Linked DNA regions of Homo sapiens. The protein of the gene in region 4 purifies or fractionates together with the protein of the main gene of each other region. This does not show direct contact. Each region holds a gene or a part of one and is shown on either strand. Other genes may lie near its edges. The genes, in order: ZNF689, STAU2, CCDC25 and RPF1.

What was found.
Region 1: the proteins of RPF1 (region 4) and ZNF689 purify together in Homo sapiens (affinity purification with mass spectrometry; one large-scale study listed by BioGRID and IntAct). This does not show direct contact.
Region 2: the proteins of RPF1 (region 4) and STAU2 purify together in Homo sapiens (affinity purification with mass spectrometry; one large-scale study listed by BioGRID and IntAct). This does not show direct contact.
Region 3: the proteins of RPF1 (region 4) and CCDC25 purify together in Homo sapiens (co-immunoprecipitation; one large-scale study listed by IntAct). This does not show direct contact.

The regions. Positions count from the first base shown.
Region 1 is NC_000016.10:30,604,566-30,608,015, forward strand, and holds part of ZNF689 (zinc finger protein 689), read right to left. Parts: intron 883-3,450; coding exon 1-882. UniProt on the Homo sapiens protein: May be involved in transcriptional regulation.
Region 2 is NC_000008.11:73,424,865-73,429,148, reverse strand, and holds part of STAU2 (double-stranded RNA-binding protein Staufen homolog 2), read left to right. Parts: intron 1-4,284. UniProt on the Homo sapiens protein: RNA-binding protein required for the microtubule-dependent transport of neuronal RNA from the cell body to the dendrite.
Region 3 is NC_000008.11:27,737,655-27,741,938, forward strand, and holds part of CCDC25 (coiled-coil domain-containing protein 25), read right to left. Parts: intron 2,864-4,284; coding exon 2,818-2,863; intron 1-2,817.
Region 4 is NC_000001.11:84,492,751-84,497,034, reverse strand, and holds part of RPF1 (ribosome production factor 1), read right to left. Parts: intron 1,663-4,284; coding exon 1,580-1,662; intron 1,154-1,579; coding exon 972-1,153; intron 792-971; coding exon 665-791; intron 1-664.

The DNA.
Region 1 (3,450 bases), on a different chromosome or scaffold from region 4:
GCAGCTTCTCCTCTGTGTGCGTGCTGCGATGGATGGCCAGGGAGCCGCTCCGCCGGAAGGCACGCCCACAGTCTGGGCAGGGGTAGGGCTTCTCTCCGGTGTGCAAGAGCTGGTGCTGGAGCAGCGTGCTGCGCTGGGAGAAGCGGGCCTCACAGTGCTCGCAGGCATAGGGACGCTCCCCAGAGTGCACACGCCGGTGACTGACCAGGCGAGAGGAGGAGGAGAAGCGCCGCTCGCAGTCCGGGCACGGGTAGGGCTTCTCGCCCGTGTGGATGCGCTGGTGGATGACGAGGGCCGTGCGCTGGCGGAAGCGGCGGTTGCACTCGAGGCAAGTGTAGGGCTTCTCTCCCGTGTGTGTACGCTGGTGGATGGCTAGCAGGGAGGGGTAGGCGAAGCGACGTCCACAGCTAGGGCACTGGTGGGGTTTTTCACCTGTGTGTGTGGTCCGGTGATTGGCCAAGGACCGGCTCCTCCGGAAGCAGCGACCACAGTCAGGGCAGTGATAGGGCTTCTCCCCTGTATGGATGACCTGGTGCTGGGAGAGGTTCTTGCGCTGGGAGAAACGTTTGCCACACTGGTCACAAACATAGGGGCACTCGCCGGAGTGTGCCCGCCGGTGACTGACCAGCAGGGATGGATAGGAAAAGCGGCGCCCACAGTCTGGGCAAGGGTAAGGCTTTTTTAGATTCTGGGCGCACTTGTGGCTCTCCAGGGCCTGATGATCAGGGAAGGTACAGCCGCAGTCAGGGCAGATGGGGCCCCCGGACGTCTGCCTAGGAATCAGTCGGGGTTTGCTGGGCCTCCGGCCTCGCTTCCCCTTTCGGGGTGCCTCCTTAGGCGGGAATACTTCCTTCTCCCCATTCTTCTTTCTGGTTCTGCTTTCTATAGAAATACAGAAGCATTAATTTAACAAATACTGGGCTCCTGCTCTTGTCAATTACATTATAGGTTACAAGACCAATAGACTCACCCCCTGGTCTCAATTCCTAGTGCCACAGACAGCTAAGTGTGACATACTGTCATGCAAATACGGTGTGCATTACAGGAGCTTCTAACCCAGCTTGGAGAAGTCTAGGAAGATTTCTCGGAGATTAAACTAACTTTAAAAATTGAGGCCGGGCACAGTGGATCACGCTTGTAATCGTAAGCACTGGGAGGCCGAGGCGGGCAGATCACAAGGTCAGGAGTTTGAGAGCAGCCTGACCAACATGGTGAAACCCTGTTTCTACTAAAAATACAAAAATTAGCCGGGCGTGGTGGCACGCACCTGTAATCCCAGCTACCCAGAAGGCTGAGGCAGGAGAATCGCCCGGGAGGCAGAGGTTGCAGTGAGCCGAGATTGTGCCACTGCACTCCAACCTGGGCGAGAGAGCGAGATTCCATCTCAAAAAAAAAAAAAAAAGGAATATTTTTGAAGAGGTAAGCTTACATCATTCAAAAGTCAAAATATCAGCCAGGCATGGTTGCTCATGCCTGTAATCCCAGCACTTTGGGAGCCCAAGGCAAGAGATCGCTTGAACCCAGGAGTTCAAGATCAGCCTGGGCAGCATAGTGAGACCCCATCTCTACAAAAAATACAAATATTAGCCTGGCCTGGTGGCACGCGTGCCTGCCTGTAGTCCTAGCTACTTGGAAGGCTGAGGTAGAGGATTACTTGAGCCCAGGAGTTCAAGGCTACTGTGAACCATGATGGCACCACTGTACTCCAGCCTGGGCAACACAGCAAGACCCTATCTCAAAAAACAAACAAGTCAAAATATTAATAAAGGAATACAGAGAAGTCTTGCTGCCACCTTTTTCCAATCTACCTTGTAGAAACCATATTAGTTTTTTCCCATTTTTTTGATGCAATACAAATGTCACCTTCCCTATCTTTCTTTCATAAGAGATTGCATACACATGCTTTACAGCGTATGTTCTCTTCCCCACCTTTCTTTTTTTTTTTCTTTTTTGAGACAGAGTCACGCTCTGTCACCCAGGCTGGAGTGCAATGGTGTGATCTCAGTTCACTGAAATCTCCGCCTCCCGGGTTCAAGTGATTCTCCCTGCCTCAGCCTCCTAAGTAGCTGGGATTACAGGCATGCACCACTATGCCCAGCTAATTTTTTGTATTTTTAGTAGAGTCAGGGTTTCACCATGTTGGCCAGGTTGGTCTCGAACTCCTGACCTCAGGTTATCTGCTCACCTCTATCTCCCAAAGTGACTACAGGCGTGAGCCACCATGCCCAGCTCACCTTTCTTATACAAAAGACAACATATACACACCTTATACACACTTTACATTTTTTCACTTAATATATTCTAAAGATCATTTTATGTCAGCAAATCTTTTTTCTATTTTACAGCTACACAGAATTCCATTGTGGATGGTTTATTTGACTTAGCTGATTCTTTAAAAAATGTGGCTGGGCGTGGTGGCTCATGTCTGTAATCCTAGCACTTTAGGAGGCTGAGGCAGGCGGATCACCTGAGGTCAGGAGTTCAAGACCAGCCTGGCCAACATGGTGAAACCCCGTCTCTACAAAAATATAAAAATTAGCTGGGCACAATAGCAGGTGCCTATAATCCCAGCTACCCAGAGGCTGAGGTGGGAGAATCACTTGATCCTGGGAGGCGGAGGTTGCAGTGAGCCAAGATCACGCCATTGCACTCCAGCCTGCATGACAGAGTGAGACTCCATCTCAAAAAAAAAAAAAAAAAAAAAAAAAAGAATTAAAATTATGCAGTGTTAGAAACGTAAGTCCCAGCCAAGCGCAGTGGCTCATTCCTATAATCCCAGCACTTTGGGAGGCCAAGGTGGGCGGACTGTGAGGTCAGGAGTTCGAGACCAGCCTGGCCAACATGGTGAAACCCCGTCTCTACTAAAAATACAAAAATTAGCCGTGCATGCTGGCGGGCGCCTGTAATCCCAGCTACTTGGGAAACTGAGTCAAGATGATTACTTGAAACCGGAAGGCAAAGGTTGCAGTGAGCCAAGATTGCACTACTACACTCCAGCCTGGGTGGAAGAGCAAAACTCCGTCTCAAAAAAAAAAAAGAAAAGAAACATAAGTCCCAAGGCTCAGTGTACAGTGTGCACAGGCCCTAAGATCTTCTTAGACACAAAGTGTAAAAGCAAGACAGGCTGGGCGCGGTGGCTTACACCTGCAATCCCAGCACTTTGGAAGGCCAAGGCAGGCGGATCACCTGAGGTCAGGAGTTCGAGACCAGCTTGACCAATATGGAGAAACCCTGTCTCTACTAAAAATTAGCCGGGTGTGATCGTGGGCACCTGTAGTCCCACCTACTCCAGAGGCTGAGACAGGAGAATTGCTTGAAACCGGGAGCAAGAGGTTACAGTGAGCTGAGATCGTGCCACTGCACTCCTGCCTGGGCAACAGAGCAAGACTCCGTCTCACACACACACAAAAGAGTGTAAGGCAAGATATGGAAACCTATGAGGTATGAGCT
Region 2 (4,284 bases), on a different chromosome or scaffold from region 4:
AAATCCCTCTCATACTTATAAGCTATTGTATTCAGGGTTATCAGTGAGATGTGGGTTGAGTTATCTGATCAGGTAGATAAGGGACTGCCCCTTGGAAGCTTTTAAGCATACCTGTGGAGGAGAGCAGCCACGCAAGAATTCTGAAAATCCATTCGTGGCATCAAGTGAGAGAGCACGCCGCCATTCCAGACTCTAGGACATTCTTGGAGGGATGACGATCATTTTGACAGTGCACGGGGGACCTGCCTGGCATGTTGATAAAATCGTCCAGGAGATTTTGCAAGAGCTAAAACGCTGAAGCTGCTCCCTGAGACCTGGCCTTCGTCTCATATATGCAGTTCTCTTCAGATGGAAGAGAGCAGGTGCCATGGGTCCTGGACTGGGTGAAGCAGGTCATTTGGTTCTGGTGTTCAGGCCACACTAAGAACCAAGTATTCCCAGTGTACCTAGTGAAAACAGGCTATAAGTAGCCTAAAAACGATTTTTTAAAAGATTTTTAAAAATTGTTTTTAGTTGTTGTTTTGCCCTTGCTAGGAATAAAACAGGACCGAGAAGCCCTAGAGCTCGTAGGAACCCCATTCAGCAGTATCACATTGCACAGTTCCATTTCCTGGCTCTCAGTAGCCCTCTGTGATGGTGCTTTTGGGATCCAGCACTGTCACATCTGGGTATTTACCTAAAAAGTTTGAAATTTGTGTGTCAAGAGATATCTGCACCCTCATGTTTATTGCAACAGTATTCACAATAGCAAAGATGTGGGATCAACCTAAATGTCCATTAATGGATGAATGGAAAAAGAAAATGTGGTATATAGACACAATGGAATATGTTCAGCTTTTAAAAAGGAAGAAATTATGTCATTTGCAACAACATGGATAGAATTGGAGAACATTATGCTAAGTGAAATATGCCAAACATAGACAAATCCCACATGTTCTCATTTATATGTGAGATATAAAACAATTGAACTCCCAGAAGCAGAGAGTACAGTGGTGGGTACAGAGGCTGGGGGTAGGTGGAATGGGAAAATGATAGTCAAAGGGTACAAAGTCTCAGTCAGATAAAAAGGATAAGTTTGATTTTTTTGGACATCTACTGCACAGTGTGGTGAATATAGCTAACAGTTGAGTACTGCACATTTTGATATTGCTCTGAGAGTATATTTCAGGTGTTGTCATCACAGAAAATGTTAAATAATTTATCATTATGTTACAAAAAATAATAAAATTTCAAATGTAATTGTCCACTTTGGAAGAAATTCATAAATTTCAGAATTTATGCCAATAATTCACATTTTAATGGCTCAGAAGAAAAGTAACTGGTCTTTTGTTAAAACTGTTGAATATACAAAGAACTTGAAGTTCATGAGCCCACTCCGTGAAAATGGGAATATCTGGAAAAAGGTCTGGCATGGATTGGTCCTTGGAGCCTACAAGTGAGTGAGCCTGGCCTTTAGCGCCCCACGCGCATGTGTGAGGTGGGACAGTGGGCCCCGGTTGATGGACACAGGCTGTGGGCACATGCACTGCCCTCAGCATAGCCGCCTTAGCACTTCAGGACTTAAAAGGACCTCAGAGTCACTGAATCAAAGCTCCCTGAGAGTCAAATTCCTCTGTGAATTCCTTTCTTGCAGGGAGGGTGGGGAGAACTGTCCAAACCTCAGTCTTTTGAGGGTGAGTTTAATTTTTGAAAACAGCAAAACTTCAGACAAAGCCAAGTCTAGTGAAGAAGGTCAACAACCAGGATGAACACATTAAAATAAGGTGGGGCCAAAAGATGACAAAACTGGTTTGCTTCTCTGACCCACAAAATGGTTCTGAGAGGTAATTCCAGAAGCACCTAGAGTAACACCCTCCTCCCACTGCTGCTGCCGGCACAACCTCTCCAAGGGTGGATAGAGAGCTCATATTAACATCTTTAAGGCTGGGCACAGTGGCTCACGCATGTAATCCTAGCACTTTGGGAGGCTGAGGCAGGCGGGTCACCTGAGGTCGGGAGTTCGAGACCAGCCTGACCAACATGGAGAAACCCCATCTCTACTAAAAACACAAAAGTAATCTGGCGTGGTGGTGCATGCCTGTAATCCCAGCTACTCGGGAGGCTGAGGCAGGAGAATCGCTTGAACCCGGGAGGCAGAGGTTGTGGTGGGCCGAGTTCACGCCATTGCACTCCAGCCTGGGCAACAAGAGCAAAACTCTGTCTCAAAAAAAAAAAAAAAAAAATCTTTAAAAATGGACATCATCTTTGGCTCAGAAATGCAATTTTAGGAATTTATCATAAGGAAAGTATTGAGATGATGCATAAAGATTGAACCAATAGGAAATTTGATGCAGTGTTGGTATCACACAGGATATCGATAGGATACTGTGCAGTCATGAGAAATGATGCTACCGAAATGTTTCTGTTGATACTGCACACATTCAATGAAAAGAGCACACAACAGATGAACGGACAAAAAACCATGGTATATGTATACAATGGAATACTACTCGGCCGTAAAAAAAGAATGAAATCCTGTCATTTATGGCCATGTGGATGAAACTGGGCGAATGTGAAGTGAAATGAGCAGGGCACAGAAAGTTAAACACCACTTGTTCTTGCTCATGTGTGGAAGCTAAAAAGGTTGATCTTACAGAAGTAAAAAGTAGAACAGAGGATATTAGAGGTTGGGAAGGGTAGGGGGAAGAGAGGGATAGGGAGAAATTTATTAAAGGATACAAAATTATAGCTAGATATGAGGAATAAGTTCTATTGCTCTATACCACTGTAGAAAGACTATAGTTAACAGTAATATGTTCTATAGTTTCAAGCAGCTAGAAGGAGAATATTGTATGAACCCAACAAAAAGAAATGATAAATGTTTGAGATGATTGATGTACTAATTACCTTGATCTGATCACTATGCATTATGTGTATTGCAACATTGTTACCCACCCCATGAATGTGTACAATTATTATTTATCATTGAAAAAAAAAAAAGCAGGTTACCTACAGTGTTAAGACATGATCCAGGCTACAGTTTGTAGACATGGGGAGAGGATACTAAGTGATATGGAGGCTGGGGGCAGAGGCGCATGCCTGTAATCCCAATACTTTGGGAGGCTGGGGCAGGTGGATCACTTGAGGCTAGGAGTTCAAGACCAGCCTGGCCAACATGGTGCAACCCTGTCTCTACTAAAAGTACAAACATTAGCTGGGTGTGGTGGCTCATGCCTGTAATCCCAACTACTCAGGAGGCTGAGGTGCAAGAATTGCTTGAACCCAGGAAGTGGAGGTTGCAGTGAGTCAAGATCACACCACTGCACTCCAGCCTGGGTGACAGAGTAAGACTCCATCTCAAAAAAAAAGAGAGAAAAAAAACAAGTGATATGGAAAGACGTGCGCCAAGATGTGAATGGTGAGCAGGATTGTGGATACTTTTTACATTCTTTTTGCTTGTCTATATATTCTGACTTTTCTGTAACAAAAAACTATTTTTATAACAAAAAATAATACAGGGAGAGAGAGAGAAGAGAGAGAGAGAGAGAGATTTTGCTATCCTTAAAGAGAAGCTATGAGGTCCCTGTACAGTTTGCTGGAGCTGCTGTAGTAAAGTACTACCAACTGAGTGGCTTCATCAACAGGAGTGTATTGTCTCACAGTTCTGGAGGCTAGAAGTTCAAGATCAAGGTGCTGGCAGGGCTGGTTCCTTCTGAAGGCTGTGAGGGAGAATCTGTCCCAGGCCCCTCTCCTCACTTCGAGTGCTTTGCTGGCAATCTTTGGTGTTCCTTGGCTGCTGCGGCATCACTCCAGCCCCTACCACCATCTTCACGTGGCGTTCTCCCTGTGTGGGTCTGTGTTCCAGTTTCCTCTTTTTATAAGGATACCAGTTATATTGGATCAGGGACCTACCCTACTCCAGTATGACCTCATCTTAACTAATTACATCTGTACTAATCCTATTTTTAAATAAGGCCACATTCTATAAGGCCCCATTCTGAGATACTGGGGGTTAGGACTTCAACATATGAATTTGGGGGAAGAGCACAATTCGACCTATAACAGTATCCAGGGAGATGGCCACACAGCTCCCACCCCACTGAAGTTAGCGCCTACCTCCCATCAAAACCCACCTGGCTGTTGTCCAGCATGAGCATGGGCCAGGATCAGGAGCTATGGGGTGGCATCACTGACCTTCTCCCTGCAGCACTCCAGGTCCAAAGAGATTATGATGATAACTGAGACTTGAGCACCACATCCTCCCTGCTTCGGGATGCCCGGGCCAGGGCTGCAGATCTGCATGGG
Region 3 (4,284 bases), on a different chromosome or scaffold from region 4:
TGGAAAACAGCAAGGAGATTTCTTAAAGAACTGAAGTAGAACTACCATTTGATCCAGCAATCCCACTACTGGGTATCTACCCAGAGGAAAAGAAGTCATTATTCAAAAAAGATACTTGCACACACATGTTTACAGTGGCACAATTCACAATTGCAAAATTGTGGAACAAACCCAAATGCCCATCAATCAACGAGTGGATAAAGAAACTGTGGTGTGTGTATACACACACTCACACACACACACACACACACACACACACAAAGGAATACTATGCAGCTATAAAAAGGAATATATTAACAGCATTTGCAGTGACCTGGATGAGACTGGAGACTATTATTCTAAGTGAAGTAACTCAGGAATGGAAAACCAAACATTGTATGTTATCACTGATATGTGGGAGCTAAGCTATGAGGATGCAAAGGCGTAAGAATGATACGATGGACTTTGGGGACTTAGGGGGAAGAGTGGGAGGGGGGTGAGGGATAAAAGACTACAAATATGGTGCAGTGTTTACTGCTTGGGTGACGGATGCACCAAAATCTCACAAATTACCTCTAAAGAACTTACTCATGTAGCCAAATACCATCTGTACCCCAATAACTTATGGAAACAAAACAAAACAAAACAAAACACAAACATCTGTATCCCTTAACAGAAGACGGTTACAAGGAGAATTAGTCTATTCTTTTAAAGTATGGAGAAAAACTAGGAAAACATTTTCACTGAAAGAGAGAATAAAAACACCCAGTGCAAAACTTCCTTGGAATCTTGAACTTGATTCATACTTGGAGCTCAGGAACAGGGGTTGCAAGCAACAGAGGGAGAGTTAGGGTAGAAAGATTAGCAATCTTTTGGGCTACAAATTCAATTTCCTAGTCTCGGGACTTTTAACATCTGTCACTGATCAGATGGTGTTTGTATATGTATGTATGTAGGTCGGTAGGTAGGTGTGTGTGTGTGTGTGTGTGTGTATTTGTTTATTTCTCAACTCTAGAATTATATACAAGCTTTAAAAATCCAAAATGATGAGAATAAAATGACTAAGGTCATGAAATAATATGGGGGCTAGATTTCTGGTGGAAAGTGCCTCTAAAACACAGAAAACTTCAATAAGCAAAATAACCACAACAATGGCATCTGAGTTGTGGTATGTTGAAGACTACTGTTTAGTGTTAAACTGTTCCAATAGTTTCAAGAAATCTAAAATTAGCTTCCAGAAAGGATTAAACACATCTCATCTTTTCATAATGATATTCTGGAAAAACAGCAACCAAAGACTATCTGGATAAGGTATGACTATTTACAAAGTAGGTCAAGGAAGACTTTCACATCGATGTGTCTTTGCTTCAATTCTAAGCAGCCCTGTGAAATAATATGTGTCCATTTTACTGATGATGAATACTCCCTCAGAGAGGTTAAATGACTTTATTAGGATCTAACCCAACCACTGTGACAACGTTCCCTTGCCCAAGGGATGTTTAATCCCCCCCACCTCAATTAGCACATGACAGTTAAGTCTCTAAACTTCAAATTCAAAGCTCTATTTAATTTAATAATGCTATTCTGGAATTTTTCAGGAATAAATTATAAAGAAACATCTCTGATTCATAAAGGAGCCTCGTACATTTAGTTCTTCATAGAGATGGGAATAAGAATGTTGTTCTTACAAATTTTTAGAAGAATATGTAGATATAAACAAGATGTAAAATCCTATTACTTCTAATTCATGCACTAAATCTGAGGTTTGACTAGATGACTTGTAAGGGATCTTAAATTCTGTTACAGTTGGCCCTTGATTTCTTTATCTGTGAATTCAACCAACCTCAGCTCAAAAATATTTAGAGGAAAAAAACAATTAAAAAAATACAATAAAAATAATATAAATTAAAAAAATACAGTATAACAACTATTTACATAGCATTTACACTAATTAGGTATTATAAGTAATCTAGAGATAAAGTATATGGAAGGATGTGCATATGTTATATGCAAATACTACTCCATTTTACACAAGGGACTCAAGCATCCTAGGATTTTGGTAGCTTCGGGGAGTCCTGGAACCAATCCCCCATGAATACTGAAGGATGACTATATTTTTAAACTATACTATAAAACATGCAAAATCCCAAATACATCCACCCAGTTTCCATTTTCTGCAGACTGCTCAATAGCAGCTAAATTGTGCTATCTCTAGACACTTCAAGATAAATTTTGGGAAAGACAGCCCTCAAGGACAATAATTCTCTGACATAGTTCCAATCAAATAATTAGACGCAATGTTAAGAAGATCCTTTCAGTACTATGTCATAGGTCACCATCTGTTTCTATCCCAGGTCCTAAGGAACATGAAAACAAACAATTTTGTCACTTAGGCTTCACTGAGTCACATAAGATCTTAGGGTAAGTTATTTTAATTGAAGGTGATAATTTTGTTCTCATTCAATTATAATATGGACTCTACAGTCACAGTGATAAAGAACACTAATAAATAAAGGCACTTTTGCATGCCTGCAACCAGAAAAGAGGGGAAATAAAGAATAAAGTCCTGTAAATATAAAATGAATAGACCTGTACGCCACAGTAGACAAGCTCTGACAATCTCTTTCCCTGAGATGACCTACTTAACAACACAAATGAGAAAGTCCACAGGGAAGGAGGTGCAGTGCCTAAAAGAATCCAGCCTGAGTGGTGTCCTGGTTGCCAAATCATGGTTAGCTATTTGCAACATGTAAGGCAATAATGGCCAGTAACACAATTATTAAAAACCCTTAGTGAATTATTTCAAGGCAAACATTCATGCAAACCACTTGAACATACCTGATTTGAAGACATATTTTCAACTTTCATTAGTGATGAATAGCTCCTAGAAGGAAAAAAACACACACACACATTTAAAATATGGTGATCCAGTCAACAAATATTTGATGAACATTTCCTGTGTATCCAGCACTGCTCAGGGGCTTTAGAAGAAACACAAGAGCTATTAGATATAATCTCTGCACTCAAGGAGATTGCAACATTCAAAGGATGAATATTTATAAACAATAAAAAAGATGTGCACAGCACTTTATAATTTACAAAGTGCTTTCTCCTACTTGTTTCATGTCACCACCTCCACAATAACTTGGCGAGACAGGTGGCATTATTCCTACTTTTCAGATGGGGAAATTCACCTACAGCCAAGATCTGATAAGATTCACAGCTGAGGTATACAGCTCAGATTGTAAACGCTACAGGAATTCAAAGGAGGAAACACATCAGTGTGGGCAGGAGCTGTCAGGGCACCCTTCACAGACAAGGCGGAACCCAAACCAAGCCAATCAAGTGGGCAGGATGAGTGAGGGGGCATTTCAGATCCAGAGAGTGGGATGAGCAAAGAGACAGAGATGGTATCTTTAATGACTTGCTGAATATCCAGCTAACTCAGGTAGGTTCTCAAATAAAGTAGTGGGAAATCAGGCTGGATGTGGTGCCCAATTATGTTGTCTTGATTGCACGACTGAACACAATGTGTTCCGCAAGAAGCCATAATACACAACTGAGTAAAGCCATAATGAGGTTCAATGGGCATTCATTAAATATCCATGTGCATAAGACCCTGTGCTAAGCCTGGGTAGAGGATCGGATGAGAAGAAAACAGAAAATGATGACTAACACAAAGCCTGGACCCACAGAACTTACTGGGAGGGGAAATAAGACTTATTCATCAATAACTATGGTGAAAAGCACTATTAAAAAATACACGGCTGGGGGCAGTGGCTCACGCCTGTAATCCCAGCACTGTGGGAGGCCAACGCGGGCAGATCACAAAGTCAGGGGTTCGAGAGCAGCCTGACCAATGTGGTGAAACCCCATCTCTACTAAAAATACAAAAATTAGCAAGCGTGGTGGCGTGCACCTGTAATCCCAGCTACTCAGGAGGCTGAGGCAGGAGAATCACTTGAACCTAGGAGGTGGAGGTTGCAGTGAGCTGAGATTGCACCACTGCACTCCAACATGGGCGACAGAGCAAGACTCCATCTCAAACGACAACAACAACAAATACACCAAGAGACAAAGGAAAGTGAGACTACATAATACCAATGTTTTGAAAAGAATAATCTGTAGCAAACAAGATTAGAGAGGTGGTTAAGACAAGAAGGTCCATTCACAATAACAGTATTTACCAGAGTATTTTAAGCCCATTGTACAAAATAAGAAAGCAGAGTCAGGATGGTTAAGTAAGTTGTTCAAGGTCTTAGAGATAAGAAGATATGCCAGGTTTTGAACCCAGGTCAGACTCCT
Region 4 (4,284 bases):
GCCGGTGTGGTGGTGCACACTTGTAATCCCAGCTACTCGGGAGGCTGAGGCAGGAGAATAGCTTGAACCCGGGAGGTGGAGGTTGCAGTGAGTCGAGATGGCGCCCCTGCACTCCAGCCTGGGCAACAAAGCTGAGACTCATCTCAAAAAAAACAAAACAACAACAACAAAAAAGTTTTCATTTATGATTTAAGATGATGATCTCCAAACTTCTAAGAAAACTTATCAATAGTTCTCAAGAAACATGTAGTAGAGTCACATATAACACAGGCTTATAAGCAGATTGCTGCTGGGTCCCACCCCCTAAATTGCTGATCGAGTAGGTCTGTGGGCCAAAGAATTTTCATTCCTAATAGGTTCCTAGGTAATGGTGCTGGTCTCGCTTTGAGAACCACTAATGTTTATACTTCAGATGAGCCAAGGTTAATCACCAGACCCAGATATTGTATCTTTTTTTTTTTTTTTTTTAGTTCAAGGGTATATGTGCAGGATGTACAGGTTTGTTACATAGGTAAACGTGCTATAGTGGTTTGCTGCACAGATCATTTCATCACCTAGGTATTAAGCCCAGCATCCATTAGCTATTCCTGATGCTCTCTCTCCTCCCACCCTCTTATCCCATACTTTAAAAATGACTTAGTCTTTTTAAACAATAAGCACATACCTTATGGACCCATTCATACTCTCCATATTTAGAATCAAAGGTTCCTTTCTGAAGAGACCTTAATTTTAAGGTAAAACGTGGTCCAAGTTCCTGAATTCCCACTTTCTTTTCACTCCTGAATATGTATCTTCAAAGACAAAAAGAGTTAAATTAGTCTGAATGAGCTATTGTTTAACATTATGACAGGGTTCAAAAGATAATTCATTTTATCTTGTATGATACTTGCTACAATATGTTGGAAAATTAGTTCATGTTGAAAATATATTTCATAATTGAAATCAAAGTTCAATGAGTTTACCTTCCTCACCTGTGAAATCTGAAGAATATGTAATCCCGTTGATTGTGGAATGTGGCAACCTGCCTTCCGATAAATTGAGGATTATGAGGAAAGAGAGATGCAAACATACGTCCAATTGAATGACCCAGCCGTGTTGTAAAATTATTCAGAATTATTTCAGGTATGTGTTCTGTGGGGTCCTTGCCTCTTCTCTAGAAAAATAATGAAAAATAAATATCACAATGGGCTAAGCTAATTGGCAATACGTCCCAATGCAATTTCAAGTATCAAAATTTACATGACAAATTTGCAAAATGTATTTTTTAGTGACAAACTACCACAGATGGCTTATCAAACCCATGAAATAAGATGTATCTAAAATTATTTTAATATGCACTGAATGCAACAACAAAAAAATCCTATTAGAAAATCAACGTGCTTCATAGTAATGAAGACTATTGCCTGCCGGCTGTAACTTAACCACAGTCTCCCAAGAGAATTGATAGATTAAAAACTGCTCTAATCAGGAGAACAAATGCCATTATTAAAATAAATTAGAGCTATAAGATACAGCATCTATTGATCAAATAAATATTGTGAAGAGATCAATGCCAATCAAAGAAATGTATAAAACTTACCTTAATTTCTTTACGAAGACGAACACTGCTCATTTTAAAATGAGCAGTTGGGCCATTTGGCAAGTGACTCAAAATAAGTCCATCTGTTCATAAAAGTTAAGAAAAACACATTGAACTCTGTAATCTAAATCTAATTGTTTAAATAACTGGTCCTCTACATCCAAAGGCCCCTAAAATCTGTACCCAAGTGAATAGGCAGATGTACATATTCCTCTGAAGTGACATTTTCCTACCATATCAAAAGCTCAAAATCAGTCAAAATCTTTCAAGAATATAGACTAACCTAGAGTAGTCCTTTTTTTCTCTTTTTACAATATAATAGTTAATCACGCTCAATAGGGTATCTTAAGGTACCCTAAACTAAAGTAGGTGAAAAAAAGCTATTTAATTGACCACTACTCTTAGGAGTAAAATAGGATGTGATTCTATAATCATGTAACACTGCAAATAGAGTATGAGTTTACCTCCACGTTCTAAAGATGTATAACCCCAAAATGTCACTTTTATACATTTGTATGGTCACGATATGCTGTCAACTTTGAATAACATCCCATGAGACCAGACTCCTAAACTTTCCTCTATGAAATTAAGGTTATTAGTATTTTGCAAGAGATCACCCCTTACTTAGGATTACTGTACCCCAAATTATAATCAACAAACCAATTAATAGCCATTCACTGACTGTCATTTCCCATGAACTGAGAATTATGCTAGACATGCTAAACTACAAATGAAATGTGAGATCACCTACCTACAACCAGCAGGACTAGCAGCCCAAGGACTCTAGAAGTCCTGGGTGCTGCAAACTAAGGTTGCTACCTATATAATATTCTTCAAGTTTGTGGCACAATCTGACCTTCACTTGAAACACCTTTACTTTTCATGAGTAATTCTTGGCTATTGCTTAATGGCATTACAAGCAGGCATATTAATGACAATGGACAGGGCTTTCACTTTGTATTATGCTTTTCTAGTTTAGGAGAAATTTTCAAACACATTTCATCTGATTCAACAACTTAAATAGGCCAGAATCAGATGGTTTCAAGTCTATCTGCATTTAATATGTATCTTTCAAAGCAGATGTTGCCATCTTTTTACAATGGCATCAACACTCATTCCTCCAGATTAGAAGCTATGGTATCTTCAGCTTCTCCCTCTCCCACCAAATCTTAACTGCTTTTACCTTCAGAAGTTCTCACTTAGCATCCTCTTTACCCTTACTGTCTTAGTGAGGTCCTCAAGATTTTCCACCTAGATTATTAAGGTAGTATTGTGGTTGGTCTGACCTTTTTCTCACCATCTCAAGTACATCTCCTAATGCAGATTGTAAAATCAAGTCTGGACTTAGGCCTTGGTTCTATAAGTAACCAGCTATGGGACTCAGCTGTTTCATTATATCTGTACCATAGTTTCTCACATGCTAAGTGAAAAACAAACTAGATACCTTCACAGTCTTGACAGCTGTAGCTAATTTCATACTACTCTCATCACAGACTCATCTACAGAAAAAAGACATTAGTATCAGACTCATAATGTGGCCACAAATTACCTTTTCAACCTATTTACCCTATGCCCACATCAAGCCTGTTTCCTAACTGGTAGGTACTCACAGTCTTATGTACTATATATGTGAATCCTAGCATGCATTTTTTGCTTCTGCTATTTTGAATACCTGCAACGTTTTACTCATCTATTATGGTCTACTTCAAATGTCACCTTTTTATGTAGTCAGAATTAAGATCTAAATCTTCTCAGTTCTGCTACCACAGCACTCATCACTTTTTGAGTTAGGAAAACACCTTTCTTCCCAACTAATCTGTTAAAACTTAGGTAGGGATGGGAATTTTTTTCTTTTGTTTTTTTTTTTTGAGACGGTCTCACTCAGCAGCCCAGGCTGAAGTGCAATGGCACGACCATGGGTCACTGCAGCCTCAACCTCTCGGGCTCAAGCAATCCTCCCACCTCAACCTCCCAAGTAAATGGGACTACAGGCATCATGCCCAGCTAATTTTTGTAGAGAAAGGGTTTTGCCATGTTGCCCAGGCTGGTCTCAAGCGATCCACCTGCCTTAGCCTCCCAAAGTGCTGGGACTGCAGGCAGATCTTTTTTTTTTTTTTTTTTTTGATAGTAGTGCCTACCATGCATCAGATTATCAGCAAACGTTTGAATTCTATCATTTTAAAAGATTCACCACAGGCTAAACTTCATGAAATACAGCCAAAAGTATTTATTAAGGGGTCTAGGAGATATAAAAGTCATTTCTTCCAACGCCCAAATCAAGGCTTAAATCCTTTCTAGAACATTCCCACTAAATTGTGGTCTGTGTCAAAAGCCAAGTACAAAACCCAAACTTACCAGTTTCTAAATAACTTCTTTTCCCATGTACCTGCATTGTGCAAGAGGCTTTATTTACATTACTGCTAATCCCTAACACAAATCACATAAAACAGGAGTCATCATGCCTATTTCAGTAATGAGGAAAAGAGGCTGAAGAGGGTCAAGTAAATTAGCCTAAGTAAATCAGACTAAGGCAACTGCAGATCTCAACCACGGTGGGACTGCACCTAGCTTAAGCCCCCTGCTGACAGCTGCTCACATTTGGAAATGTACAGAGGCATTTTGTTTGTCAGTATGACTGAGGTGTTACTGGCATTTAGAATCCAAAGGCCAGGAATGCAAACCATCTTGGAAGCTGCCAAGAGTGT